Homo sapiens: one gene and its partner. The protein of the gene in region 2 interacts with the protein of the main gene of each other region in a pairwise test. Each region holds a gene or a part of one and is shown on either strand. Other genes may lie near its edges.

What was found.
Region 1: the proteins of LRP12 (region 2) and MYOT interact in a two-hybrid assay, tested with the Homo sapiens proteins (one study listed by IntAct).

What each region holds. Positions count from the first base shown.
Region 1 is NC_000005.10:137,870,860-137,885,913, reverse strand, and holds part of MYOT (myotilin), read right to left. Parts: coding exon 14,907-15,054; intron 10,086-14,906; coding exon 9,911-10,085; intron 8,395-9,910; coding exon 8,293-8,394; intron 5,607-8,292; exon of another isoform or gene 5,099-5,606; coding exon 5,049-5,098; exon of another isoform or gene 3,942-5,048; coding exon 3,809-3,941; exon of another isoform or gene 2,531-3,808; coding exon 2,323-2,530; exon of another isoform or gene 2,293-2,322; intron 1-2,292. UniProt on the Homo sapiens protein: Component of a complex of multiple actin cross-linking proteins. Involved in the control of myofibril assembly and stability at the Z lines in muscle cells.
Region 2 is NC_000008.11:104,492,422-104,509,589, forward strand, and holds part of LRP12 (low-density lipoprotein receptor-related protein 12 isoform a precursor), read right to left. Parts: intron 16,654-17,168; coding exon 16,518-16,653; intron 7,099-16,517; coding exon 6,896-7,098; intron 5,656-6,895; coding exon 4,551-5,655; intron 2,789-4,550; coding exon 2,656-2,788; intron 1-2,655. UniProt on the Homo sapiens protein: Probable receptor, which may be involved in the internalization of lipophilic molecules and/or signal transduction. May act as a tumor suppressor.

The DNA of each region.
Region 1 (15,054 bases), on a different chromosome or scaffold from region 2:
AAAGACATGCAGTACTATTTTGTTATACCATTCAGAATTCTAAACTCTAATGTAATGATGCATTGAATTGATAATCAGATAATTATATTTCATTCAAACTAAAGTCATATTCTTTTTTTTTTTTTTTTTTTTTTTTTTTTTTGAGACAGAGTCTCGCTCTTTTGCCCAGGCTGGAGCGCAGTGGCGTGATCTTGGTTCACTGCAACCTCCGCCTCCCAGGTTCAAGGAAGTCTCCTGCCACAGCCTCCTGAGTAGCTGGGATTACAGGTGTGCACCACACCCAACTAATTTTTGTATTTTTTTTAGTGGACACAGAGTTTTGCCATGTTAGCCAGGCTGATCTCTAACTCCTGGCCTCAAGTGATCTGCCCACCTCAGCCTCCTAAAGTGTTGGGATTACAGTCATGAGCCACCGTGCCTGGCCCAAATTTAAGTTATATTCTTTATCATCTCATCTACAGGGAGGCAGCATGAGTGATGGAAAGAGTATCAGACAGCTTGGGTTCAAATTACCTATTGGCTCCATGAGCCATGCCAAATTGGTAAAATTTTGTTTAGTTTCTCTGAGTCTCAGTTTTATCTATTGTTATAAAAAAAAAATCCCGGTAGTAGTGACTGTTGTGTCTACCACACAAAATAATTGTAAGGAACAAATGAGATAATAAACAAAGAGATACTTTGTAAACTCTGAAGGAATGTGGGAATATCAGTAATTATTATGACCTTATTTTCAGCTACCTGAGGGGAGACAGGAAACGATAGTTCAGTACCATAACCCTGGTTTTTCTGAAGGAGAAATGAGATTAAACGGATGGCAGCCAAGATCTCTTTCAGCTCTACTATTGTAGTATTTCTGAAGCCATTGGTACAAATAGGATTTGTCTAAACTTTAATCACTTAAATTGTATGTGTTTTTGAAAATTTCCAGCCCACTAGTTTTTCCCCTGAGATTGAGGCCCTTTGGTATATTATTGAATAATCTTAAAGATTTTGTATTGATCTGGGTAGAATATAAACTCAAGAAAATAGTTTATCCTTTAACCTGATCAAACTTCTGTATAATAAATAGTGAATTATAGCAAAATATCTCTTATGCAATATACAATGGCTTAAAGTATTAAAAATATGGTATGGGTTGAGTATCCATTATCTGAAATGCTTGGGACCAGAAGTGTTTTGGATTTCTGATTTTTTTTTTATTTTAGAATATTAGCGTTATACTTGTTGAGCATTCTTAACCTGAAAATCCAGAATGCTCTAATGAACACTTCCTTTGTGTGTCATGTCGATTTTGGAGCATCTTAAAGATTTCAGATTTTTGGATTAGGGATACTCAACTTGTATATTTAAAGCACTTAAAGTGTAAAATTTAAAAACCAGACACCAGTTTTATAAGAACTGCTCTACTTAAGACAGATTTGAGACATAAATGTAGCCATACCTGTTTTCTAAAGCAAGTAGGCCTGTTTTGGTTATAATTAGACATTAGTTTCCTAGTAAAAAGGACATAGTCTAAGGCTAAAAGTTGATATTTACTCTTGATTTTTTAAGAAATTTTTTTAAACAAGGTCTGACTGTGTCACCCAGGCCGGAGTACAGTGGTGCAATCATAGCTCACTGAAACCTCAAACTCCAGGCTCAAGTTATCCTCCTGCCTTAGCCTCTCTAGTAGCTGGGACTATAGGTGTGCACCACTATGCCCAGCTAATTTTTTTATTTTTTGTAGAGACAAAGAAGATCTTGCTATTTGTTACCCTGGCTGGTCTCAAACTCCTTGGCTCAAGTGATCCTTCCACCTTGGCGCCTCTTAAAGTGTTGGGATTACAGGCCTGAGTCACTATACCCAGCCTACTCTTCACTTTTAAACTATGTATTTAACGTTTGACAGATTATGATAATTCTGTAATACTGTGAGTCAGATTGGTTATTTTTATTATCCTCATTTTGGAGAAACAAAGACCAGAGAAATGATTAGACTAAGATTTTCATTTTGAGACTCTATAGTTACGTCTAGAAATGCTTATGCTTCATTATTTGGTTTGTCTAAAATTGTATGATTTATTTTCTTTCCAGAAAAGCTTTGGTGATAGATCTGTCATTCTAGTTTCACTGACTTTCCTTCACATATCTATATATGTATGTATGTGTGTGTATATATATATATTTTTTCCTGTGGTTTGTAGATAAAAATGGACATTCCAATAGGTTGTATAGACATTAACCTTAAATATGAAGTCTGCTGGGCTTTTCTTTTAAAATACTTTCTTTTTTTCAATACTTCTGGATTTTAAGGAATTCTCAAGGGTCTCTTTGGAGGCTTACCAAGGACATCCAGCTGCACAGTGAAGGTGGCTTCTCCTGCTCTATTCTTGGCAACACATGCATAAGCCCCTGCATCTGAAGCTCTGACTACTTCAAAGATGAGTGAATGAAGACCCTTCTCAGACACTATCATTTTGTGCAAATCATCTGATTGAACTGTTCTTCCATTTAGATACCATGACACATCAGGAGCTGGCAGTCCACTCACCTAGAAAGAAAAACACAAGGAGATGGCAGAATTTTAAAGTATTGCATCACTGAAACCTATTTGTCCATATATGAATTTAAACAGTTCCCGTATCTGAGTGGGTTTGCGATTGAAATGCAAAGCAAGAGCTCAAAAGTATTTATAATTTTTTAAACAAAACATTGGAAATAAGATCCTTGAAATTAACATAGTATTTTTAGACTGTCTCAAACCATAACTCTTTTACATGCAACCTCAGTCTCTTTATGAACTCTTAATTTCTATATTTAGAACATTAATTTATGTTACATTGGTTTCCATAAGGAATATAGAAGTCATTGCTTTTCTGGCTAAATGTGACTGCAAATGAAGTCCCAGAGGCACATATATATGAGGCTTCCTGATCTAATGCGTAATTTTTCTAAAACAGAGTGTTCTTGAGCTATAGTTTGGCATATAAATGGCAATTTGTTAAGTGTTTTTACATAAACTGTTAACAGTGGAATCCAAAGCTTTAACACTAACTTGAGTTCATAAGGAATCTGGAAAAAAAATTTTATAAGGAAAAGTTCTCCAAAATAAGGATAATAAAAATATAACCTCTTCTAAAGAGCTTTTCTAGTCTGAGGGACTCTTTTAGGCCAAGAGAAAGCAGGGTGGCTTGAATTTCTTGATAGAGGAGAATTGGAGAGACATTATACTTTAAGGCTGGGCACAGTGGCTCACGCCTGTAATCCCAGCACTTTGGGAAGCCAAGGTGAGTGGATCGCCTTGAACCCAGGAGTTCTAGACTAGCTGGGCATGGTGGCACGCGTCTGTAGTTTCAGCTACTAGGGAGGCTGAGTTGGGATGATGGCTTGAGCCTGGGAGACAGGTTGCAGTGAGCTGCGATTGTGCCATTGCACTCCAGCCTGGGTGACAGAGCAAGACCCTGTCTCAAAAAAAAAAAAAAGGGCATTGTACTTTAAAAATTATATTGTTCTGATAGCTTCACTTATAAAAGTATTTATTAGGTATACCTATCCACTCAATTAATCCTCATAATTTTTTGGGGTATTTGTTATCCCATTTTACAGATGAGGAGACAAAAGCACAGAGAGGTTAAATGACTTGTCTAAGGTTGCTTAGCTGGAGGATGGCAGAGCCAGAATTCAAACCCACATCAGTTTGACTTCAGAATTTGTGTTCTTGTCCATTGTACGTACTGCTTTGCAAGCTATGAAGTAGGAAAAGAACATTTTTCAAAACTTAGTATCCCATTGTTAATTTTCCCCCAGTACTTTTGAACCCTTCTCTTACTTTGAAGTCCATTCTGCAGAATCTTCCTTCATCAATCGACATGTTCTCTGGCACTTGAATGAAACGTGGTGGGTAAAATTTCTCCTGGATTGCATCCTGATCATTCACATCTCCCCTTGAGGTTGATCTACTTCTACAAGAATATTTTGGTAACAACTATGCGTAAATATTATCATTGCTTTTCATTTTGCACAAATATAGTTTAGCCATCAATTTTTTTTTTTCAATGGAGTTTCACTCTTGTTGCCCAGGCTGGAGTACAGTGGCCCAATCTCAGCTCACTCAGGAGGCTAAGGCAGGAGAATCGCTTGAACCCGGGAGGCGGAGGTTGCAGTGAGCCGAGATCGCGTCGCTGCACTCCAGCCTGGATGACAGAGTGAGAGTCTGTCTCAAAGATAAATAAATAAATAAAAATATCCAAATTAAGTTTTTGACGTTTTTCTATAGTGGTGGTGTGAACATGTATATAGTTATATTCAGAGATGTGGTATTTCAGTTATACCAACCTCCGCTTCTTGGGTTCAAGTGATTCTCTTACCTCAGCCTCCCGAGTAGCTGGGATTACAGGCATGTGCCACTACGCCTGGCTAATTTTGTATTTTTAGTAGAGATGGGGTTTCACTATGTTGGTCAGCCTGGTCTTGAACTCCTGACCTCAGGTGATCTACCCACCTCGGCCTTCCAAAGTACTGGGATTACAGGTGTGAGCCACTGCGTCCAGCCTAGCCATCAAATTTGAAACCACAGAATCTACTGTTTGATCTGATAGTGTAATAACAATGAAGAGAGGCCTTAGGGCTGTATTTACCTGTGGCATATTTGATGACTATTAGAAATGGTAGCAATTTAGAAACATCTGGTACAAATTGTACATCTTAGTTTCTCTTTTACAGTGCCATGAATTGATGAAGAAATGGTCTATTAAAATGCCCAGTACCCAGCAGATTATTCTTACCACCAAAGATTGTATAATAAGAATTAGGTCTCCATTGTCATGAGAAAATTGTTTAATATAGAAGCATGATCCTGGCTTATTTGACCAAAACATTAAAAAATTCCCCTGTGATAGTTTTGATGATGAACGTCAAAATTTTGGTCATCTTCTCAGACATTAGAAAATACACATTGTATTTTTCAAAAGGTATAGAGTAGGCTCGAGGGCTTTATAAATATTACATTTTTAAGCTGAAAATATTTTAGATAGGAAAACATACATTTCTTTAAAATTAAAATTTTTTACCTTACTTGTGATGTAGGAACTTGCAGTCGCGCATGTTCTGAGTTGTGTTGCTTGAAATTAAAACAAAGTAAGAATGTTTACATGCAATTGTTAGCTTGAATGAAGCAGAATTAAGTAGTTACAGTTGAAAGGAACATTCCTATTTTGGCTGTATTTGAACAGCCCTGGTAAGTTCTATATATTCAGCTTTTAAGCCCTTAAAGTACAGTGCACTAACATACTACCACTCTAGCAAGAAGCCCAGAATTAATGGGACTATTCAACAAGTATTATTTATGAAAATTAGCTAGACTTGGAATTGATGGTGGTTCATTTTTCAGATGACTATTTTATGACAAAGGGTGATGTGTCTCCCTGGTGCATTTGAAATGGGAGCACAGAGTACAGATTGTCCTTTAGTAAAACAGGAATAGACATGAAGTCACTTGTATTGGCAGTAGCTGCAGGGTATTATGCCTGCTGCTCAAAAGTGGCACCAACAGCAGTAAACACATATTAGACTGGAAAATTCTTCTCTTTTTAGCTCGTGGCACAAAATCCTGATGGACTCCACGAAAGGTATGTGTAAGGCTTTGAAAAAGCTTTGTAAAATAGCATTAATTCCTGTTTAATAAAGTTGTATTTAAGCAGACATCTTTTAGGATTTATATCCGAACAGCAGAAAATTATTTCTATTTGAGAATAAAATCAGGGATTTATGAAAATTATAAGAGAACTAATTGATTAAGTAGTGTGTATTTTGCGTTTCACTGTGCTTAGCACAGTGGGAGATACAAAGTGGAAAACACAGTCCCTACCCAAAGCTCTGTAGGAGCACACAAGATCTGAGTACAAATAATTTGCTTTGGGATGAATCTATTTAGCTAATGTATTTTGTCATTTTTAAGGCAAAAGTCTTACAACTCTGTAACAATTTTTGGCTAGCCTTAAGGTTCTCTAAGCAAAATATCAAGACAACTGGTCAATTCAGTGATCAAACAAATCAACTAATTTTTTGGTAAAGTAAAAGTAATCCAATTAAAAATATCCAGGCTGGGCACAGTGGCTCACGCCTGTAATCCTAGCACTTTGGGAGGCCGAGGCAGGTGGATCATGAGGTCAGGAGATCGAGACCATCCTGGGTAACAAGGTGAAATCCTGTCTCTACTAAAAATACAAAAAAAAAAAAAAAAAAAAAGCCGGGTGTGGTGGCAGGTGCCTGTAGTCCCAGCTACTCGGGAGGCTGAGGCAGGAGAACGGCATGGACCCGGGAGGCGGAGCTTGCAGTGAGCCGAGATCGCGCCATTGTACTCCAGCCTGGGTGACAGAGCAAGACTCCGTCTCAAAAAAAAAAAAAAAAAAAAAAAAAAGATGAACCATCATCAGTATAATATTGCTTTGAGTAATTCCCCTAATAGTGATGAGTTTGTGTCTCATTTTTGCTATAATCTTCCATACCAAGTGCAGAGCCCAACATACAAGTAGGTTCTCCATGTAAATTAGTTGAATGAACGAATTCATGAACTGTTTAGTAGCCAAAAATAAATTTAAGTTCTCTTTTCAGTTTCTAGTTCTTGCTCTGGTAGACCCTCTTCCATCCTTTTTAGTAGGTGTAGTTGCATCAAACAGAACCAAAAAACTTAATTTCAAAGGCCAGGTGTGGTGGCTCATGCCTGTAATCCCAGCACTTTGGGAGGCTGAGGTAGGCAGATCACTTGAGCTCAGGAGTTTGAGACCAGCCTGGGTAACATGGTGAAATCACCGTCTCTGCTAAAAAATACAAAAACTAGCCAGCACGGTGTGCGCACCTATAGTCCCATCTATTTGGGAGTCTGAGGCACGAGAATCACTTGAACTTGGGAAGTAGATGTTGGAAAAAAAAAACTGAATTTCAGTTTTCTACATTTGGAAGCTAGGAATATTTGTGTTCCTGGTTTAATCTCTTTGGCTCCCAGTTTCTTGTGGACTTTTTGGAGGGAATGGAAGGTAACTATGAAGGAAGAAAGAGTGCTAACATTCAGTCTACCTGTCCAACTGAACATTTTTCTTTTTTCTTTTTTGTGTTTGAGATGGAGTCTCTCTCTCACCCAGGCTGGAGTGCAGTGGCATGATTTTGGCTCACTGCAACCTCCATCTCACGGGTTCAAGCGATTCTTCTGCCTCAGCCTCCTGAGTAGCTGGGACTACAGGCGCAGGCCACCACGCCCAGCTAATTTTTGTATTTTTAGTAGAGACTGGGTTTCACCATTTTGGCCAGCATCCCCTCGATCTCTTGACCTCGTGATCCACCCACCTCGGCCTCCCAAAGTGCTGGGATTACAGGCGTGAGCCACTGTGCCCAGCCACCAACTGTACATTTTTCTTTGGGGTTAAGTTTACTTGTTAAAATCAAGTTGAGGCCAGGCGTGGTGGCTCATGCCTATAATCCTAGCACTTTTGGAGGCCGAGGCGTTCCAGCCTGGCCAGCATGGTGAAACCCCATCTCTACTAAAAATACAAAAATTAGCTGGGCCTGATGGTGTGCGCCTGTAATCCCAGCTACTTGAGAGGCTGAGGCAGGAGAATCACTTGAACCTGGGAGGTGGAGTTTGCAGTGTGCTGAGATTGTGCCACTGCACTCCAGCCTGCCTGGGTGACAGAGCAAGACTGTCTCAAAAAAAAAAAAAAAAAAATCGATCAGGTGCAAACCTGTGGGATGTGCCACCATAAAGTTAAACCCTTCTTGGAAAGGATACATTTGTTAATCTTAGAACAATTACTCATGAGGGGTTTTTTTTGGTTTTCAGAAAGCATTTTTTGAAAACAGGAATATAACAAAAGGAATTGGATGTTTCATTAGTACCACAAGTATATTTTAAAACATTGAAATGTTAAACAGCTTATGAGAAAGGTTATAATTACTTTCATTTATAATCTTAATTTCTGTCCTATTGGAGGTTCACAACCCATATATTCCCTGTCCGTGTAGACACCATAGAGAGTCCTAGGTCTAACTGACCCATAAATGTCCTGATAAAAAATAATACCATTAGACTTCTTGTGTTTTGATTTTGTGACGTTGTGTATCCAGGTATTAGAACTACCAGAAAATGGGGTAAAATGTGGTAAAATTATGTATATATGTTTATCATGGCCTCTTTATGTATCCAGTGGTGGATGGAACTGACCGACTTTTATTTCAGATGCTATTTATAAGCATTTAGAAAAGCAGACATTTAAAAATCGCACAGAATAAAAATACTCCACTTAGAGCATTTTAACTTACCTGCGAGTCTTGTGCACCACTGTCATCCTGAGCTTGAAACACAGCAGCTGCATTCTGTGGTCCTAGCAATCTGCGAGCCATCTTCTCTTCATATGTTAGACGCTTTAGAGAATTTATTGAGACAGTAATTAGATTTAATAAAAGATGTTTGTACAGGTTTACCTTAAAACCACTACTATAGGTCAGAACTTCAAAGAAGCATAGTTCTATCTATTGAATGATAGATTCTATTTTTTTTTTTTTTTTTTTTTTTTGAGACGGAGTCTTACTCCGTCGCCCAGGCTGGAGTGCAGTGGCACAATCTCGGCTCACTGCAACCTCCGCCTCCTGGGTTCACGCCATTCTCCTGCCTCAGCCTCCTGAGTAGCTGGGACTACAGGCGCCTGCCACAATGCCCAGCTAATTTTTTGTATTTTTAGTAGAGACGGGGTTTCACTGTGTCAGCCAGGATGGTCTTGATCTCCTGACCTTGTGATCCACCCGCCTCGGCCTCCCCAAGTGCTGGGATTATAGGCGTGAGCCACTGCGCTCGGCTGATTCTATTTTTTTTTTTTTAAAGTCTTTTCTTCCATTCAAAGCATTTTCCTTCTATTCTAGTACCATTTCCCTCACTTGCAGTAAAGGTTCACTTAGGCTTTCTTTTTGCTCCTATGACAGGCAAGCATAATCACTCTTAAATAAGGATCTCCTAAGTAAAGGGAAATTCAACCCTTTCCTCCGTTGTTCTGCATGTTCCAGTCAGCTTTGTTTTTGAATATAATACTTCATGTGCTCACATTCAGAAGTAATTTTTATTTAATTTTAATTAATTAATTTTTGAGACAGAGTCTCACTCTGTCGCCCAGGCTGGAGTGCAGTGGCACGATCTTGGCTCATGGCGACCTACGCCTCCTGGGTTCAAGCAATTCTCCTTTCTCAGCCTCCTAAGTAGCTGGAACTACAGGTGCATGCCACCACACCTGGCTAATTTTTTATTTTTAGTAGAGATGGAGTTTCACCATATTGGTCTGGCTGTTCTCGAACTCCTAACCTTGGTGATCCACCTGCCTTGGCCTCCCAAAGTGCTGGGATTACAGACGTGAGCCACTGCACCCAGCCAGAAGTAACTTTTATTAAATGAGCACTGAATATTTGATTGTACTAACTTCTGATTGAGAGCAGTCCAACTGATAGGCTAAATGTATTTGTATTAAAGGCATATAGTACTGTTTAAAGATAAGTTACTAATATAATATACACAATAAGGACTACATGATAAGAATTATAGCAATAATTACCTGTCAGTGTTATACATCAAAGTACACTAAGTTGACTTGACAGTAATTCCTAATAGCTATTTGGGCATCAGACATATTTTATGAGAGGGTAATATTTAATAACAGAAAAATTTCATTAAACCATTCAGATACATTTTTCATTTGCTTCATTCTTTTACTACTGTAAACCAAGAGGTGATTTCATGCAGAGAGAAATGGAATAGGGCCCAAATATTCCTTCTTTTTAGATAATCTTATTCCTTGTTGATATATGGACCTAGATCTGTGAGCTAGAACTTCCTTATTAAAATTAGATTTTATAGTTTAATTGGCCTTTTGTACAAAATAGACATCTTGCCCACTTGATTTCCATTATGAAGAAGGGTGTCCTTGCATTTCAGCTTTCTTTCCAAATCTTGAATCAAAGCTTCTTTTGATCCTTGTATTTCATGATCAGGAGTTCTTGGTATGGGCTTAGCATTTGCAGTTTGGGATGGCTTTGCATTTATAGGTTGGCCAGCTGAGGACTGTTGATAGCTTTAAAAAGGAAAAAGAAAAGATTTTTAAAAAGAAGGTCTTGGCCTCATTTTGCAAATTACCTTTAGATATGTTGAGTTTACCACTTAGTACTACTAGTATTATTAAAAACAAATTGCCCTAATAACAGTCAAGAAATATTTTATAAGAATGGTTACTATCTTTTTTTTTTCCTTTTGGCAAATGGAAATTAAGTGTCAGGAGGAAGAATTTAGATTAGACATAAGGAGGATGTCCTTCCTTGAAGATATTCCCTAAGGAATGTGAGAGTAAGTCTAGTTAGTGGCAGCTTGAGAGCTCTTCCAATCTTATGAGTAATTTCTTTAATAAAATTTTTTTTTAGATTCTGGGAGTACATGTGCATGTTTGTTACATGGGTATATTGTATGATGCTGGGGTTTGGCCTTCTAATGATTCTGTCACCCAAGAGGTGAACATAGTACCTGATAGTTAGTTTTTGAACCCTTTTCCACCTCTTTCCCTGCTTTCGGGATCTCCAGTGTTTATTGTTTTCATCTTTGTGTTCATATGTACCCAATGTTTAGCTCCCACTTATAAATGAGAACATGCTCTATTTTATTTTCTGTTTCTGTGTTAGTTTGCTTAGGATAGTGGCCTCAAGCTGCATCCGTGTTGCTGCAAAGGACGTAATTTTGTTCTTTGTTATAGCTACGATGACCGAATTTCTTGTTTGATTTATGGGTAGATATTAAGTGGTGGTATTCTGGAGCTGGTTCATATGGGCTGATTTTTAGCATCTTTTCCCAGCTTCCTATGATTTCATGTTATAGTTTGAAATTGGTTGTGGTGGAAATATTTACACCAGGGAAATCGGTAAATATCACAAATAATGGCTCTTTTGTCCAGTGATTGTTAGACATTTACCAGCACACCACTGGCTTTTAGTGAATAATCTTTTGCTTTGAATGGAGTCTACACAGTCATTGACTTTCCTGTAATTTCCAATTCCTATTAATTTCATATTCTAGAAAATCCAAGTATGGCACTATATAACAGCAAATAACTTCTAAAGTAATGACAGTTTCTTCAATACTACTGAAGTGATTTTTAGAGAAAAAATGGGATGATTTGAGGAAGGAGAAAGAAATGTAAACTGGAAAAAAGCAAATAAAGTCTTTATTTCAAATTTTGATCCTAAATTTTTTCTATGATGTCCTTGCCCCTCCCGTATTTCCCTTGTTGATTCTGATAGAGGATAGGGTGGTATTTAGAGAGTCCTGTATTTTTAGATCTGTTAGGTAGCTTAAATGTATCACAGTGCTTTATTCAGTTTTTACCTAGTTTATCCATTCAGAGCCCTGCAGGGGCTAATCTTTATTTTTAATTTTTATTTATTTTTTTGAGATGGAGTCCCGCTCTGTTGCCCAGGCTGGAGTGCAGTGGCGCGATCTCGGCTCACTGCAACCTCTGCCTCCCGGGTTCAGGTGATTCTCCTGTCTCAGCCTCCCAAGTAGCTGGGATTACAGGCACCCGCCACCATGCTCAGCTAATTTTTGAATTTTTAGTAGAGACGGGGTTTTGCCATGTTGGCCAGGCTGGTCTCAAACTGCTGACCTCTGGTAATCTGCCTGCCTGGGCCTCCCAAAGTTCTGGGATTACAGGCTTGAGCCACCGCACCCGGCCTGCAGGGACTAATCTTTATTAATCTATTTAATGTGAGGAAACTAGCCACTGCCCTCAATGAGTATTTTACCATTATTATAATAAATGTTCTCTGGCTATCCAGATGAGACAATCTTGGTCTCTTCTCTGAAATGATCCTTTCCAAATATTCTCAAGGATCATTAAAAGGACTTGTGAGCTAAGTATAAATGTATTTCCTCCAAGTAGGGCCAGAGTTTTAATTTTTACTGGCTTTGGGAACTTGGTTAGTAATCATTAGATTGTAAACATTCTGGAGAAAAAATATGTCTTATTTGTTATCATTATATCATTTATATCCACGAACACAGAGCATGGGTATAGGAGATACTATCAGTTGAGTGAATGAGTGATTTTCATAGTATTCAGGACACTCTATTGAAAGCTAATGATACACATTTCCTCTCCTGACATTTCAGGTCTTAAGATCTTTATGGTTGTCTATATAAATTTTTAAAGTCTGATTTGTTCAGTTAATAGCCAAACAAAATGTTTTTTAAAATAGCGATTTTTTTTTTAAAGATTGAATTCCTAGATCAAAGTGTCAAAATCTCTTTGGCCTTATAGATCTCATATTTTTTCAATCGTATAGAATTATAATAGACCACTTTTTTTTTTTTGAGACGGAGTTTCATTCTTGTTGTCCAGGCTGGAGTGCAATGGCATGGACTTGGCTCACTGCAACCTCTGCCTCTCTCTATGTCTCCCGGGTTTAAGCGATTCTCATGCCTCAGCCTCCCAGGTAGCTGGGATTATAGGTGCCTGCCACAACACCCTGCTAATTTTTTTGTATTTTTTTTTTAGTAGAGACAGGGTTTCACCATGTTGGCCAGGCTGGTCTCAAACTCCTGACCTTGGGTGATCCATCCACCTTGGCCTCCCAAAGTGCTGGGATTACAGGTGTGAGCCACACCTGGCCTAGCCTACTGTTTTTTTTTTTTTTAAAAATGCTAGCTTATCATCTTTATAAGTCACACATTTGTTAATGTGAATTAGCATTAAATAATTGTTTTTAGACTTGTCATATCTGGGAAATTCTGAATATATCTGAGAAGTCCTGAAGGATTATCAAAACCAATCCTGAGAATCACTGATGTATATGTAACCTCAGTCACTTTGTTCACTGAATACTCTCATTATTCCCAGTTTAGGTGGATTAAGTGTTACGACTTGATAAATGCTCCCATTTACAAACTAATAGTACGTTTGCACACTGCTTTATAGGTCCTTTCTCTATCATTAATTACCTAACTCTTTAATATTGCTACAGACCAGAAAATTGAAGCACTGGGTAGGTAAAGTGCTTGCTGAATTTCACATAGCAAGCTTTTTGGAAGGAACAATTGAGTTCCCCTCAGTTTTCAGTCTGTGGTTTGATCAACTGGGTAAAATGTTTGCCTAAGAGCTTCCTATTGATGAAAATCTAAATAAAGCTTTCAAATTTCTCTAGGTCAGAATCCAAGGGATTATTTTGGAAGTCAGGGCGAACTGGAGCCCATAATAACGAGGGAGTTGTGCACAAATGTTCAAAGGGCCAGGGCTTTCCACTCTGCACAGCTGGACACGAAATGGGTATCAAGTAGCTATGGGAAGATTAAAGAGTTATCTGTGGTTGCTGAAAATGGAACAGCTAAAGTGGATCTTTGATCTCTGGTTTGGGGACCTCCTAGGCTTTATTTCTTATTATGTTTTTGCCTTTCTCTTTTCTTAAGTCTTTGATCACTTTCTTTTCTGGGCAGTAATTTGAAATATGATTGAAAGACTTTACTAAGAAAAACAAAAAATTCTTCTAGATTTTAAAATGCTAATATAGGAAATATGGAAATAATAGAAAGCTAGATGGAAAATGATCATCTGGGTAAATATAACCAAGAAAGATCTATATATTATAAAGGGAATTTGGGAGGGAAGAGAAAGAAAGGGCTCTCAATTATTAAAAACATCCTTTTAAAATATTAGGTTAAACCTGTGAGAATGCCATTTTTGTAGGTCAAAAACAGTTGACTATCAGCCATTTCAAATGGTTCAACTTAATATCTATAGGATTCTAACAAATGTTTTTGGTTTTCCTGATTTTTATTTTTTAAAATATTGAAAAGGTTTTTTTTTGCAAGTTGAATTGCTATAGGCAGTTCAACTAGATTTCCAAAGTTGTCACCAATAATAGGAGTTTGTAGAAAAATTAGCCTCTAGAGAAGACTGCGAGAAATTAGCAGAGTTGAGTGAATGTATTAGTAAGCCTGCAACAAAACATATTCCATCAGACAATTTTTGAGATGCCTCTGATTTAATTCTCTGATGTTCCAGCCAGCCAAGGAACAGGAAAGCTGATAGCCAATAGTTTGCATAAGCACAAGGTATTCAGTTCATGTTTTAAAAAAAGCATAACCACCATCTCCTTTTTCATACTAGGTTCTCCTAGGACAGTCTTAGGGTAGTGGAAATAGCACATGTTTACATAAGGCCCCAGTATTAGTCCCTGTATTTAGATCAACCCAACTAATTTGAACAAGGTGTGGTTTTAATTACCAAACGAAACCGTAAGGTCATAAGCCTTCATCTATTCAGGCCTTCCTTCTTCTGATCACAGTAAGGAAAATGTATACATTCCAGGGTCTGAGTTCCAGGTTTTTTTATTTGTTAATTTAAAAATTTTTCAGCCAAGTGGATATTCAGGATTAGAGGGGAAAAGGGATAGGAAGAAAAGACTGAGAAGAAACTTAATAGCCTCTGCTTATGTGAGAGGAAATCCTATCTGAAGAAGAGCAGACAGGTGTTCATCTTAGCCAAGCCCAGAACCAGAGGAATTAAATTTACAGCATGAGGAGCTTAGCTTAGAACTAAAGGAAAAGTTCATTGTTCTTTGGTATGTGAGAAATTATTTTTTTCAAAGATGGAAAATAATGGGTAAATAATTTTATGGGGTAATAGGTAATTGGATTCAGCGCAGCTTGGACACTGGAGAATAGTCAGATGACCTCTTATTGCCAGTACCCTGGTTCAGCATGTTCTAGTAGAACTATGGAATGAGACTGTAAGGTCACATTGCCTTTTTAGATAGTAAAGAATGAACTGCAGCATACCCCCAAAACTCCTACCCCCTCGCAAACTCCTCAGATATAAGTTCACTGTACATGCGGTATATAAAAATTCACTTACTTGGAATCCATAGCGGAAGGGATTTTACTGCTATTGTAATCAGGCTGTGATGGTAATATGGAGCTGAGGAAGCTGGCTGGGGACTGGTTATAGGTGGTTGTAACCCTTTGGCCTGGGTTGGAGCCAGCATGCTGCTGGGGAGAAGCAG
Region 2 (17,168 bases):
AAAAAGAAGTATTCAAACTTGAAACAGCTTTCACCAACCTGGCATTTAGTATTTAAAAATTGTATTTCCAGGAAACAATCTTAAGTTGATATACTCTCCTTCAGTTGATGATACCATCTCCTGCCAAAACTCACACCTCTTCCCTTTCCCCTCACAGAAGAAAGAAGGTAGAAAATAAGGAAGATGTCCTCTTATGTTCTGTATCTCTTTGTGACTGGTATTGCATTTATTTATGCTTTCCATATAGGCCCTTCCATAGTGCCATGAACATAATTTATGATAAGAAGCTACTATCATAGGAACATTTCATAGTCTAACATTAGTAAGGCACAGATTGTCAATAAGAAATTTGGATATCAGCACACATGGATTTGCTATACAGATGAGTAAGAGTTTTCACCAATTAAGAAGTACCTAACTACAAATTAAAAAAAAAAAGAAAAAGAAAAAGCGGTTCACATTTATAATGAACTTCTCCACAGATCTGCTCCTCAACAGTGAGCATGCAAGTTTTAAGGCTTCATGTTGAGCACTATGCTATTATGTCCAGCAATGAACAAAAGGCTCTTCTGTTATCCTCTGTTGTGCTGCTATTAGCCATCAAGATCAACAATGCCTTCAACATACTTTATTGCTGACTTTAACATTTGGTTTGTCATACTGAGGTGAAACTCTCTATTTAGTTAAAAGTCAGTTAATTAGGATTGGCAATCTAACATTATATTTTATGAGGGGATCTCACGAATGTTCTAGGAATAATTTCATATACTTCTTCAGTTTATGAAGGAGAAAGCATTCCTCAAAAAGCGTTTCTCCTTTGAGTGAGATGGTGAATTACATCATTACTTATTTTTTCCAAAATCTGCTATAAAAATTTGGTAATTTGTTACCAAAAGCTTCAAACTTGAGAGTTTTTAATCTCATTAAATGAATACAATCTAACTTACCACCCATAAACATATTTTATTCTAAAATGTTGAAGTAGAATTCTCCCACGAGGGTACATATAACCTGAGAAACTGGGGTAGTGTGAGGTAATAAAGAATTTAACCTCACCCAAAGCCTCTGTCCTTGGCTTTTGGTACATCATCTCCAAGCCCTTCCACTGTCATGTCTGAAAGCAGTGTCTTTGCCTGGGGGCCTTGGACCAGCCAGATAGTAAAACTGATTTAGACTGGAAGCTCTGAACCACACCAACAGTGTCATGTAGGGTGAGGGCTTTGGGTCAGTCAATCTCTGGATAAGGCTAGAAACTGGGATTGGCCACATGTGCAATTAATCCTGCCTATGTGCTAGTGCACCAGTACAAACTCCGGACACCCGAGGCCTGGGTGAGCTTTCCTGATTGGTAACACTCCATGCATATTGTCACATATCTGTGTTCACACAGTAATGCCCTCCTGCCTCTATGGGGAAAGGACAACTGGAAGGTCCATGTTTGGTACCCTTCTGAACTTTGTCCTATGCATCTTTTCCCTTGGTTAATCTGTGTCTGTATCCTCTCCCTGTAATAAACTGTAATCGCAAGTGAGCTGCTTTCAGTGAGTTTTTTGAGTGTTCCTAGTAAATTATCAAACCTGAAGGGGATTTGGGGAACTCCTTGAATTTGCAATTGGTGTTAGGAGTGAAGACAATCTTGTGTGTACCGTGTTCTCTCTAACTTTATGGGGTTTAGGCATGGTGGGTGGTAGAGAATGAAGTAGGTGTGTAAAATTAACTGTGATCTGATTCTTACCTAAAAAAAAACTTTCCCCATAGCAGGGCTGATATAAAGAAGCCACAACTTAGGTTTTTCCTACTTTGCACACAAAATTCCAACAGTGGAACTTCTGAATGATTTACTTAGGAAATTACATATGGAGAAATGTTTTGAAACTACAAATTCTCACCAAAGATTTCCTAAAATACTCCAATAAGGTGATAGACTGTAATCAGAACTCACATTTACCAAAAAGGAGATGGTATTCTATTTTGAAAGTAATTATATTACTGGGAAAACAATGTTTACCAGTTTTAATTATAATACTGGAAACAACAGTTTTTATAAATGTTTCTGAATGAATTTACAATTTAAATGAATAAATCCTTATGCCTAAAATGAACACTGGCACATTTTTAAGCACTACGAGAAAAATTTTTTTAATTGCTAAGAAATTGAAAGAATTCAGAAACATATAATGAATTACTATATAAACAAAATGCTATAAATTGTTAAACACTGTAAAATCCAGCTTGAAGATGTTTTTCCTGAGGTAGAAATGTTAACTTCATTTTAATTACTTTTACTTATAAGTGGTTAATCTAGCATGTTATATTGCTAGCATATTAATTTTAGTGTTCATTCTTAAATCTTGCAGATGTTCAGGTCAAGTAAAAAATAATTTGCCAAGCTTAATACTTTTGAATTATAATGCACTAAATTATCCTAAACAGTAAAATGCTTAAGAATTGCACAACCAAATCAGAGGAATGAAAAATATACTTTTGCAGTTTGTAGTGTTAAACTATAATGAAAACTATGACTTCAAATCTTCCATACATTTAAATCCTTGATTGCAAAAATTCTGACAGTCAAGGGTCTTTGCTTTATCATATATACAGGCGCAGATTTCATTTTAAGAGGAAATGTAATAGAAATTACACATTGCAATATACCTGATTAGGTGAACAAACAGGAAAATCTTCAACTGGTGGAATTAAACCCTGAGCAATCAATTGTCCATACGAGGGAGGAGCTTCTCTTCTTAACAATTCTGCTTCCACTCTTGACAACTGTGTTTCAAATGATCTTTGAGAGTAGATGGAAAGAAAAATGATTAAAAGGGGGAGCGAAGAAAAAGAACAATTTTCTATTATCAGTAATTAAAACAATCTGAGTCTTGGCATATTTGATCATTTTAAAGCTTAGTCATTTGACAAACATTTACTGAATATATGTATTATCCCTACAGTGGGAATACAAAGCTGACGCAGGCAGTCTGTCTTCATAGGGCTTTATGCTAGTAGAAGCCTAGATCACTGAGTTTTAATAAATGAAAATCCCTGTAAAAGGTAAAGGGAGAAATAATACAAGATTTAAAAACTCCTAAGAATACTGTATTTACTGAATATACGTTGAAGCCACTGCGCCCAGCTGGGATCTTTGACTCTTCATTGTGCTCTTTTGTTGCAATGTGGTAAAAAGTTTTCTGGCCATTTACACTTGGCCAAAGATGCAGTGGTCGGGCGCCGTGGCTCACACCTGTAATCCCAGCAGTTTGGGAGGCCAAGGCGGGTGGATCACGAGGTCAGTAGTCTGGGACCAGCCTGGCCAACAGAGTGAAACCCTGTCTCTACTAAAAATACAAAAAATTAGCCAGGCGTGGTGGCGGGCGCCTGTAATCACAGCTACTTGGGAGGCTGAGGCAGGAGAATCGCTTGAACCTGGGAGACGGAGTGCAGTGAGCTGAGATCGCACCAGTGCACTCCAGCCCGGGTGACAGAGCAAGACTCCCGTCTCCAAACAAACAACAAAAAAAAAAAAAAGGAAAAAAAAGAAAAGATGCAGTAATGGTTATTACGATACTGTGCATCTGTGTGCCACCTATTAGCCATCTGTTACGTAAAAAGTTGTTAAATCTATTATTTGTAATTCTCCTGGGACTGAAGGTCATTGTCTCCACAGGGACATCTCTGCCATTAACTTCTGCCAGGTCCCATTTATCCTGCATCAAACTGAAAACTACTCACTCTGAAGGTCACTCTTTAACAGTTAACCATTTCTTACTGAACTGAGAACTCTGAAGTGCTGTTGTCACTTAACTCTACAACAGGACATTAGTCTTGTGTTCCAATCGTATCTCCTGTTAGCCCTTCATACGCATCCTGGGCTCCAGATAAACTGAATCATGTGCTTACTTTTTGAGCAATGCTGGACATTCCTACTTCTATATATTTTCCTAGGTTATTGCTTTAACAACACCTTTTCCCCTATCTATATTCTTCTACTCATACATTTCAAGTGGCACCCCTCCAATTAAAGCCTTTCTGCCTCTCTCCCTCATTAGATTACGTATTTTTGACTTTATACCATTTTGTTTCATAGCTCTTTATAGTATTATACTTTTGTCATCTTATTCCATGCCCCAATTCCTTCCTCCTAACTGTAAACTGCTTGTGATATTATGCCTTATTCATTTTTCTATTTACCTGTATGCTTTGAACATAGCATATAGAATAACTGGAATTTTTGAATTTGTATTTAGAAAAATACAGGTTAAAACACTAAAACTGAGAGCTGCAGCTTACAATATTCCTATAAAACAGATTAATCTGAAAACAGGAGCTGGTAAATAGATGGGCTTTTTCTCATAACTCTAAATATTTAGTTTGTAATGTGTCTGGCCTTCTGAGTCTCGGGTTTTTCACGCTAATTTTATACATCATCAACAATCTTTATCCATTTTCTAAACTAATATAAAACAAAAATACATTGCTAATCATCAAAGAACTTGTTTCAAACACTTGGGCCTGCTTTTATTGAGGCCCAATAGTTCTGTCTTGATACTGACCTTCTTTCAAACATTCTCAGAGAATAAAGCTTACAAGTACATCCCAATGCTATGACGAGTAACAGGCCACAGATGAGGCTCCCTATGACGGCAGCAGTGATGACTCTTGTAGGCACGATTACTGGGCAATTTTCTTCATCGCTGCCATCACCACAGTCATCTTGAGAATCACACACCCAACTTTCAAACACACAACGATTGTTTTTACAATGGAAATTTCCTGGTTGGCAAAAAAAGCAGTTTTTTTCATCTGAGCCATTTGGGCAATGATTCTGGTAGTTGCAGCGATCAGAACGAGGATAACAGACACCATTTCGGGAACATGGAAATTCTTCCTTCTGGCACATGGTACAATTGGTTTCATCCCTTCCATTTGGGCAATGCCAATACCCATCACAACGCTGCTGCTCAGTATAACACCCCCAGTTACCTCCACAGGGTATTTCCCATGGCAAACAGAACCCATCTACTTGGTAAGTAGCATTAAATCCCCTTGCAGCATTCACTTTATCAGCACAAAAATGTACCCTTATCTGTCCAGAAGAAGAAACAACTGTAAGAGGTGCATGAGAATCAAAAGCTGTCAACACACGCAAAAGCTTGTGTGGATTCTCCTCTAATCCATCATATATTTTGACATAATCACCATAACCAGTACCATCAAGTTTAAAGTCAGTGAAGCGTAAAATGACTTTACGGTGATCACCAGTGTCTATTAACCAGGTGCAATTGCTTCCAGGAGGATAAAAGTCTGGATAATTGGGAGAATTAAAAGTACCATAAAAATATTTTAGCCATTGCCCACATGTTGGCACATCACAGTCTATCTCATCTCCTAGGTCAAGGCAGTCAATGTTCCCATCACATTTTAAAGATTCGGGGAGGCAAGTGTAAACTTTGGTAAAACGGGATAAACACTGGAACTGGTTGTAAGCACAGGGTTGAAAAGCAGCAGCAGTTGGAGGATTTGCTTCTTTGGCACAGATCTCTTCATCGGAACTATCTCCACATTCATCCATGTTATTACATTTCCAGGCTTCTGGTATACACTTTCCATTACCACAACGAAACTGATCACAAGCACAATTTGGTTCCTCAGATTTCCCTGTGAAGATGTGAGTAGAAATAGATGGAAAGAGAAGGAGAAAAATTATAATCTTTAAAAGACATAAAACAGCAAGTGATATTTTTATAATAAATGTTCATAAAGCCCAAGTGCTAGAAGTTTTAAAAAACAGGTTGGTTTTTTAATATTTTAATTTTAAGTTCCAGGGTACATGTGCAGGATGTGCAGGTTTGTTACATGAGTAAACATGTGCCATGGTGGTTTGCTGCACCCATCAATCCATCACCTAGGTATTAAGTCCAGTATGCATTAGGTCTTTTCCCTAATGCTCTCCCTCCCACCCCACCCTCCCTAGAAAGGCCACAATAAATCTGGGGCCTGTGTCCATGTGTTCTCATTGTTCAGGTCCCACTTATAAGTGAGAACATGCAGTGTTTGGTTTTCTGTTCCTGTGTTATTTTGCTGAGGATAATGGCTTCCAGCTTCATCCATCCATCCAGCTTCCAGCAAAGGACATGATCTCGCTCCTTTTTATGGCTGCATAGTATTCCATGGTGTATATGTACCAACATTTTCTTTACCCAGTCTATCATTGATGGGCATTTGGTTTGATTCCATCTCTTTGCTATTGAGAATAGTGCTGCAATCAACGTATGTGTGTATGTATCTTTATAAATGGAATGATTTAACAGGTTGGGTTCTAATGACAAATTAGTACTGGCATGCTTACTCAACAATTCAATTTGTTAAATACTTATTATTATTCCATGAAGATCTTGCATTTTGATCTAAAAGAGAGGACTAATTCTGAATTATTCACATTTGTATGATCTGGTCTTGTTTTTTAGACACAATTTAAGAAAAGAAAAGATGTCGTTTTTTCTGAGACTATAAACTATGAAGGTGAAATTTGTTAGGTCTTTTCTCTGGAGGTATAAAAACAATGACAATTACCACAAAAATACATTCTGAAGTAACTTTCTGGATATGCGTAAGCACTTGAGGGAGAAAAGGCTATTCTTAGAATAAATGTATTTAAGATGTTTAAAAAGAAAATTAACCTTAGTATATGAAGTTAATCATTTTGTTAGAATTATACAAAACACCTTTTGGAGACCCAGCTTTAGGGCATCTAACTTTAGCTTCTAATCCTCAATCTCAGCTGCCTCAAGGGCCTACTCCTAATTAAATGAACACTACTTAGAAGATTAGCTCCGAAGTGACAGAGCAGTTAATACCATAAAATTCAGTTCAATATCTTTCTTATTTAAAAACACACCTGAAAAATATGCCAGTCTGAAACCCTTTCTAGAGATGTTGTCATCCGAATGAAACCTAATCCAGATGTGGTCTTGTGAAGAGATATACGGAGGTGGAATTGTGGAACCACAAGCTCTGTAACTTTCAATATTCTTGTATGTTTCTATTGTCAACCAGTCCAAATTGCACCTTCTGGATCCTTGAATATCAAAATCCTGAAAACTGAAAAAAAAATCAGAAATGTCTATTAAAAAGTCAATTTTGGAAAAAAAAATCGTATTACAAAGTAACTGAGGATATTATTATAAGCCTCCATATACTGACTGATTCTCCTGGGTTTTCTAGGCATACAACCGTATCATTAGCAAATAATAATACTAATTCTATGTTCCTCATATTTGTATTTCTTCCCCAGATTGTAGAAAAATAATTCTTCACAAGTAATGCTAGGTTCCAAAATAATGTTAAAAAACAGGTGACAGTTGGCACCTTTTCTTTTTCTTCTCTGTGTGTACGGTTGGGAAAGACCACTTCTAACTCAGAACATCCTAAACTGTTCTGTGTTCCAACCAGAATCACCTCTCCCCAATCTGATGAATTGAAGTAAACACAGAGAAACTCAGCCTTCTCTTAGATTAATACCTGCTTAATGAAAAGTTTGCAGCTGACATTCTTAGGAGAGTAATTAGCACAAATCTGAGCAAGGTAAAAGACTGAAAAAGGAACACACGAAAAATGTTTTTGGTGAAAAGTCCTTGAGTTTGGGAATACTTTTTTACATAAATCACTTTATAGCCAAATACTATCTTGTAGTTAATAAAATGTGGGCATAAGTATAGGCCAAAAACATCAAATAAATAAATGCACACAGAAAATTAGTCACTGCTTATGAAAAAAGAGAAACCAAAATACAGTTTTACAATATCTGAATATGCCTCACCAAAAAGTAAAGATCTGACTTTATATTCTTGCCTTTGCCTTAAACTAAGTGATAATAAAGTTAATTACCCAAGGATTATTATACCAGAATGTTTCTTCTTCAAATATTCTGAATAACTAACAAAAGCTGATAGACAATTTGATTGTTTCCAGGTTTGCACTATTATGAACTATGCTTTAAAAACTCCTGGCCGGGCATGGTGGCTCACGCCTGTAATCCCAGCACTTTGGGACGCTGAGGTGGGCGGATCACGAAGTCAGGAGTTTGAGACCAGCCTGGCCATGATGAAACCCCGTCTCTACTAAGAATACAAAAATTAGCCGGGCATGATGGTATGTGCCTGTAATCCCAGCTACTCGGGAGGCTGAGGCAGGAGAATCTCTTGAACCTGGGAGACAGAGTTTGCAGTAAGCCGAGACTGTGCCACTGCACTCCAACCTGGGCAACAGAGTGAGACTCCGTCTCAAACAAAACAAAACCAAACAAAACCAAACAAAACAAAACCCTTATACATGTACGTATCTCTCTTACAAGAACAAGAATTTCTCTAGGACAAACTATTCTAGAACTAGTATTGCTAGGTCAGAAGAATAATTCCTCTTTAAATCTGACAGACACTGGAAAAACATGTTTATACGAATTTACAGTTCTACCAAGTATGTACCAAAGTACCATATACCCCACACGTTTAGCAAAATGACATATTCTATTTTTAAAAATGTTTTGCCAATTAGGTAGACAAAAGAGATTTATCACTTCTATTTAGCATGTCTTTATTTACTGAGATTGAAATCCTTTTCCAATTTTTGGGTTATTTCTATTTCTTTTACTCCAAATTGCCTTGTTTTCCAAATTGCCTCCTTTATTCATTAATATTTCTTAAGAACTCTACATATTATAAACATGAGCTTATTCGGGGGCATGTATGTTATGTGAGACATGTCATATCCACCTACATCCACATTCTTTCTCTCCAATAGTCAGTGTGGTCAGTCTTTTTCATTTTAGTCACTGACGGGTGTGATCTCTTATTGTGGTTTTATGTACACTTCCCTGAAGACAAATTTGCTGAACATCTTTTCATGTGATTATTGGCCATTTTTATATCTTCTGTGAAGTATCTGTTCATGTCTTTTGCCCATTAAAAAAAAAAAGTTATAAAAATCCCTTTTATATTCTTGGCCGGGCATGGTGGCTCACACCTGTAATCCTAGAACTTTGGGAGGCTGAGGTGGGCAGATCACTTGAGGTCAGGAGTTCGAGACCAGCCTGGCCAACCAAAATGGTGAAACCCCGTCTCTACTGAAAATACAAAAATTAGCTGGGTGTGGTGGTGCATGCTTGTAGTCCCAGCTACTCGGGAGGCTGAGGCAGAAGAACTGCTTGAACTTGGGAGGTGGAGGTTGTAGTGAGCTAAGATCGCACCACTGCACCCCAGCCTGGGCGACAGAGCAAGACTCCACCTCAAAAAAAAAAAAAAAATGGATTCAAGTCCTTTGTTAGACATGTGTATTGCTAATATTTTCTTCCAGCCTGTGGTTTGTCTTTTCATTTTCTTAATGGAACCTTTTAATAAGCAGAAGTTTTAAATTTTAGTCTTCATTAAGTCTAATTTGTTATTTTTGCTTTGTGTTTAGTGCATTTGTTGTCCTAAGATATCTTGGTGTTTCCAAAGATCTCAACGATGTTCAACTACTTTTTAAGTATTTCAGAGTTTTAGTTTTTACATTTATAGCTGAGATTTATATAAATTTTCGTGTTTTCAAGTAGAAAATGAGATTCTTCTTTCTTACATTTATCTAGAACATAGAAGATACTAATTTTTGTTCTATCACACAGTTAAATTAGTCTGATGACTATGAACTTGAGGAGGTTTGGTTTTACACTTGTTTAAAGTGAGTTTGTTTCTGCTTTGCCCTTAGTCTTAGGGGGAATTCTTAGTTTAAGGACACTGTCTTTACTTGTAAAGTATGACACACAGAGTTTCATTAAAAATCTCAAGGCATTTATTTATGAAGCCCTATACTCGGTCTCCCCTGTGATGGACAGGATTCAAACTCCACATGCTGCCTCTGCTGTGGGGTGCAGCAGCTGAAATCTTCAGCCTTCCTGCTGTTACTTTCCAGCAGGTTCCTTGGAGTCTTCTTTAAGCACACACAATTCATGGGTCAGCTAAGGATTCGAGAATAATTTAAATGCAGTTACTTTCCAGCTTGTGGTTCTCTCCTTTCCAGGAGTTACCTTATTAATTTCCAGTTACTGTCCCATCCTCAACTGCATCCTGACACCTCAAGCTGACAAGACCACGGTGATCTGCTTGAGTTCCAGTCACTCCACGTTGCACAGACTGGCAAGAATCTTCAGAGAACTGGTAGGAAACAAGCCTATCTCACGAAGTGTGGTTCCTTCTTTCAGGGGTGGAATACTCTCCAGTTTTTGCCAGTTTTTTATTACTCTCCAGAGCCTTCAAATATCTTTTCCAAACTTAATAGCTCTTGTTTATGGGAGGTCTAGTCCCATTCAAACTAGGGAATCCCTAGTTTGGTTTTAAAATATCTTATCCAAACTTAATAGCTCTTGTTTATGGGAGGTCTAGTCCCATTCAAACTAGGGAATCCCTTAATAAACTTTTAGTCCACTAAACATTTAAGATTCATGAAGGCAAAGGCTGGGAGAGGTGGCTCACGCCGTAATCCCAGAACTTTGGGAGGCTGAGGTGGGTGGATCACCTGAGGTCAGAAGTTCGAGACCAACCTGGCCAACAAGGTGAAACCCTATCTCTACTAAAAATACAAAAATTAGTTGGGCGTGGTTTTTAATTTTAGTCTTGATGAAGTCTAATTTTTTATTTTTGCTTTATGTTTAGTGCATTTAGTGTCCTCTCTAAGCTATCTTGGTGTTTCCAAAGATCCCAAAGATGTTCAACTATTTTTTAAGCATTTCAGAGTTTTAGTTTTTACACACCTGTAATCCCAGCTACTCGGGAGGCTGAGGCGGGAGAACTGCTTGAACCCGGGAGGCAAAGGTTGCAGTGAGCCAAGATGGCGCCACTGCACTCCAGCCTGGGTGACAAAGCGAGACTGTGTCTCTCAAAAAAAAAAAAAAAAAAAAAAAAAAAAAAGATTCATGAAGGCAGAAACCTTGTTTAGAATAAGAAACAATAAATATCTGTTCATGTATACCCTATTTTAGTTTGCTAATTCATTTAGGATTTTTAAATAAGTAAAATTACTTTTTGGTTTTTTAAATGCTTCATAGTACTTTGTGTAATAAAAGCACTGTTGACATATTTGTGCTCTGTGCCTATTTAGAATATATTGAGTCAGGGAGAGAGTTTCAATTTCTTGATGTTTTTTGGTTTAATCAGTGTTTCTTAAACTTTTGACCATTTAAATTTTCTTAGAAATTGATCTTATGTTGATAGTAAAATTTATTACTACAAAGCTCTGTACACAGTACTTTCATACAATTTAAAGACATTTTTTCCTATCTGTGATCTTTAAGTTTGCTTTAGACTGCTTAAAACAAACATATAATTAGCAAATAAAGGTTTTCTCTTCCTTCCTATTTTCTTTATATCACTGATTTCTATCTGTTGCACTGTTGCATTCACTAAGAATTCTACTATAACCAGTAAAAGCACACATTTTTGTCTTGGTCCTTGGTGCTATAATTAACTTTGACATTAAATTTGCTTTTGAAAATTTTTAAACAGACACCCTTTACCAGGTTAAGGAAATTCCTTTTCTATTCATTTAGTAAAACTTGCCTATAAAACTAGTTCTAGAGTCTTAATTTGAATGCTGATTCAATTTCTTCAATGGCTACTGATTTCATCCGTTTTCTAATTCTTCTTGAATCAATTTTAGTAATATAAATTTTCTAAAAAATAATCCAATTCATCTACTTGTATAAAAGTATTAACATAAAACTGCTTATAATATTCTCTTATGACATTAAAAATTTTGTTTATAACTACAGACACTTTTGCTCTTTTTATCTTCTCTTTTTCTTCAGTTTTGCTTTGAGTTTTATCTATTTTCCTGAGTTTTTCAGAAAGTCAGCTTTTTGTTTTATTGAATTTTATTGCGTATTTTCCTGGTCTTTACTGCTACTTTAAAATTTACCCTCTAATTCTTTTCCTTAACTCTTGAGTTAAATGCTGAGCTTATTTATTTTCTAATTTTTAAATCAATGCATTAAAGTTGTAAACTTTTCTAAGTATTCTTTCAATGTATTCTAACAGTTTTAATATGTATTACTTTCACTATGGTTATTTAAAAAATATTTGGTCCCATTGTGATTTCCTCTTTAATTCAGGAGTTATTTAGGAATATATTTCTAAACATACAGGTTTATTTTTTTCTTTTATTTTAATTGCATTGTGGTAAGAAAACACAATCTGAATGATGTACAGTCTTTGAAATGTATTAAGAGTTCCTTTGTGATGTGAAACATAATCAATTTTTATAAATGTTCCACATGTCTTTGAAAAGAATGTGTATTCTTTGTTGAAATAAGTATTAAAGGTGTGTTAAAAATCTCCCACTGCAACTGTGGATTGGTCAAATTTGCCGGGCAATTCTCCACATTTTGCTTTGCATGTATTTTAGGCTATGTAATTAAGTAAATGAAATTTACTGCTGGTTTATTTTCCTGGTAGAATACCCCAATTGTTACTAGTATTTTGTGCCTTAAGCTCAATTACAATGGATGTTAATCTTCCTACACTAGCTTTCTCTTGATGAGTAGCTCCAAAACTAACCTTTTCTATCTCGTTTTGTTTTTGTTTATTTTTAAGACTAAGTCTCATTCTTCCACCCAAGCTGGAGTGCAGTGGTGCATTCATGGCTCACTGCAGCCTCAACCTCCTGGGCTCCGGTAATCCTCCCACCTCAGCCTCCTGAGTAGCTGGGACCACAGGCAACGTGCCATCATGCCCAGCTAGTTTTTTGTATTTTTTGTAAAGACAGGGTTTCACCACCTTGCCCAGGCTGGTGTCGAATTCCTGAGCCTACCTTGGCCTTCCAAAATGCTAGGATTACAGGCACGAGCCACAGCATCTGGCCCATCTCCTTGTTTTTAGACATTCTGTATTAGTTTTGTTTTAGATGTGTTACAACCTTTCTACTTGGGAGAGAGTTCTCATTTTCCTTCTTTCCTTTTTTTTTTTTTTTTTTTTTTTGAGACAGGGTTTCACTCTGTTGCCTAGGCTGGAGCACAGTGGCATGATCTTGGCTCTGTAACCTCCACCTCCTGGGTTCAAGCAGTTATCATGCCTCAGCCTCCTGAGTAGCTAGGATTATAGGCGCGTGCCACCATGCCCAGCTAATTTTTGTATTTTTAGTAGAGATGAGGTTTCGCTATGTTGGCCAGGCTGGTCTCAAACTCCTGACCTCAAGTGATCTGCCTGCCTCAGCCTCCCAAAGTGCTGGGATTACAGGCGTGAGCCACCACATCTAGCTTCCTGTCTTTTTTGAATATATTTTTAAAGTTCCTTTTCCTCTGTTAACTGCTCAATATTACTCCTATTTTTAATCAGTGGCTACCTTTTGATATTTTAACTGAAATGCTGAAACACACTTTTTTTCTAACAAAGTCCAAGTAAGAATATTCGGTGTTTCTCCTGTCCCCTCAAAAATCACAAATAGGGTAGAAACAATTTAAAGCTTTATTTTCACTAACCTTTTACTAAAATTTAGCATTTCCTACACTTATAAACAACAAACCATGACAGTATTTATAGCACTGGCCACTCCACCACTATTCAAAATTAGAGATATTTTTATGTTACATTTCAGTTTTTACAGATATCTAAAAATACTATTTACACGTAAAATTTTTTCTTTGAAATTAACCACTTGATTTTGCTAATGTGTTCATAAATAAGCATATATTACATTACAAATATTAAAAAATATCTGATAGCTGTACTTTAACATAATTGGTTCCCTTTGTAATGCTATGTATTTTTTTTAATGAATTTAAACACATTATTCTGGGAAAGAATACATAGGTTTTACCAGAATACTAGGTGGCCGTGGCATAAAGAAAGTTAAGAAATAATTCCTGACAGAATACATCTTAAAATGCCTGGAGTAAATTTGAGTTCCAACTTAATTTTGTTTGGCTGTTTTTCTCAGCATTCAATTTTTTCACACATTCTGGAATTTTGGTTTACAGGTTTATTTTATGGAAGTTTTTTGGTTTTCTCTCTTTTTTTTAATCCTCTCTTCTTCTATGTTCCCCTACTTGGGTCTACATTCCAGAACAAGTCTTAAATGATGGTTCAGAGTATTACAGATCCTTTCATGGAGTCAGCAGGTGACATAGTTATTCATGTTTGTTAGGTTATGCCCTCTCAGCTCTCTAAGCTCTCAGCCCCATATAAATTCAGGCTGTGGTTGGTGGAAGATTTTTCAGCCTCCTGTCTGGAGCAAAATTGCCCGTCCCTAGTCCTTGGCTTCAAGCAGGGTGCTGGTATTCAATCCTCTCTTCCCCATGGATAAGGTGGCCTTTGTTGATTATAGTGGGTTCCAAGGGAGAGGAATGAAGTAAAAATGCCTTTATTTCACCATCTTAAGCAAGTTTTATACAGACAGTTCTCAGTATTGTTTTTACTCCGTAACTTTAGTTTCCCTCTTCTATCCAGATTTTAAAAAATCATGTTTCTAATTCCATTTTACTAAGAATTTAAAATTTTTATTTTAAATTCAGGAATGAATGCTGATTTTCTTTTTTACCAAGATGCTTCAAAGCATCTGTGTACACTAGATAATCATATACTTTTTCTTTTGACTTGTTTACATGGTAAGTTAATTTAATATTTCCTAATACTGACTCATTTGTATGTCTAAAAGAGCTACATTTAATTATGCATATGATTCTTTTGAATCATTTAAGATTATGCAATGATAATCATATGTAAAACTTGTCTTTGTGTATATGCAGGTGTGTCATCTTTTTAAAGTTATGGTATTACCATGATAATGACTTCAGTAAAGAATCTGAACAATTACTAAAATCACCTTCTGATCTGTATACATCGAAATTCATTGCTCCCTTCTAAAATTCAGGAAATTTTCCTTTAGCTGTAGGGCTCACTTCAATTTTATTCTGCATTTCAGTATTGTGCTTGGTTTTTAGTGTATCTTAACCTCATGAAATCTCAAGGATGCAATACATTATCAAAACCAGATGGCAGTATTTCATGTAATCTCCTCTGTGCTGGTAAGATTTTCAAGTTTTACAAAACTGAGCTATAAGTTGTAAGTTAAATTTTTAGGTTAAAAGGTGAAGGTCTCTATAAATTCTAGTTTTATGCTAAAAAACTCCCAATATGTGGTAAAAATGTTATTTTGTAAACATACTTAGTCACACTACAAGTAACAGAAAATAGGTATATTATTTACATTTAAACACTGACCCTGTTACAGAAAGATAACCTTAATGGTGCATTCTACCACTCAATCAGGCAAGAGAAAAACACTGCATGGAGGAGGAGAACAACAGCTTTTGTATGTGCCAAGCTCTGGGGTTCCAGAAGAGGTAATGTAGGGTAGAGGAAAATAAAAGGAAAACAAACTATGGCCCTTGTTTGTGGTTTCCACCAAAAAAAGGAGATAGATGACAGTTATGCTTCTCAAGAGAGATTGGTTTCCTCATCAGTTAATAAATACAAAAAAGGAAGATGAAAAAAGATGAGAAAGTAGGCTAAATGTATAAGTCTTATTTTAAAAACATAAAATGAAGGAATTTGAGTTTATGATCTCCAAAGTCTCTTCTAAATCTAAAATTCTATGCCTCCTACCCATACAATGTTACACATGAAAACATGTTGAAGGTGCCTTTGTGCTACACTGTCTCTGTGATGGAAATGACATTCTTATTTGTGTTTTGTTCCAACTGCAGTTCTTCATTCGGGCTATTTTTTTTTCCCCTGTAGGTAAATATTTTTTTCCTAATGGCCTTGATAGAATTTTCCTAAGCAAGCAGTATCTAGTTCTACTAAATATATTCTTTACAATCTTATTCCCGTACTGTTTTTCTCTGCAAGTAATTTGCTAAATGTTTTAAAATTTAATCTTAACCTTCCTTATTTATATGTCACATTCATTCTTAGAATCTTAAACTTACAGCTATTTCCCCTAGGAATGCCTTTCATTTGTATTCTTAACAAATGTTCTTTTGTTTCGAAGTTATAAACAAAGATTTTTCTAGATATAGTATTTCTCCATTATCAGTTTGTTTCAAGTTTTATACATACATACACATATACAGACAGGCATGACAAATTGTGTTTTAACTCATTTAGGTAGAAGGCTCTACTAATGAGACAAAGGTTAAGAGCTAGATATCCAAGTGAATTAATGAGTTTTGTTTATTTGTTTGTTCCACTGCCAAAGGTTAGTCTTGACCCTAATAGGCTATTTTGCAAATGTCTATATTTTGTTAAAAAGTAGCTTAGAAGAATATAGATGATTCAATGCAAATACATTACCACCCTTAGAAAATACTCAAAACACATACCAGATGGGCTGTTACTCTTACTCTTAAGATGACACCAATAGCTAATAGCTGTTCTTTATTACATCTCCTGAAAAGCCTTCTTTTTATATTACTGCATGTTAAGTAATAATAAATGAAAATGGAATTTATGTTTTGTAATAAATTATATAGTAATACAGAAAGGTAGAATTACCTTATAGTAATGATTTCGCCTGGGTTTGCCCTTATGAACCAGCTACAGTTGATTTTTGCAGGATATTCAGAAGGCCAGCCTGGGCTTGTGATTATGCCACTTGGTGCTCGTATTTGCTCTGGAGTCTCTCCACAAGCTGGAAGATAGCCAAAGCAATCTTTCCTTATTATTACACATTTAAATGGTATTAGGTAAATCAGTGTTTATTTTTTAAAAACCAAAAAACTTTACACATCAAATAATAACCAATAAGATATGGTAGTATCAACTTTAAAAAGCTATTATTCTAATGAGATATTTCAATTTTCTCCCTTTTAGATAAAGTCCCTTATTCCAATAAAATACAGTAGCCCCACTTATCGGACATTTTGCTTTTCATTGTTCAGTTACTTGGAGCCAACAGTGGTCTGAAAATAGTAAATGGAAAATTCTGGAAATAAATAATTCTTAAGTTTTAAATTGTGTGCTGTTCTGAGTAGTGATGACATCTCTTGCTGTGCTGCTCTGTCCCTCCCGGGACATGAATCTTCCCTTTGTCCAGTGTATCCACGCTGTGTATGCTACCCACCCATTAGTTACTTAGTAGCCATCTCACTTATCAGATCAACTGTCACAGTATTGAAGTGCTTGTGTTCAAGTCACCCTTATTTT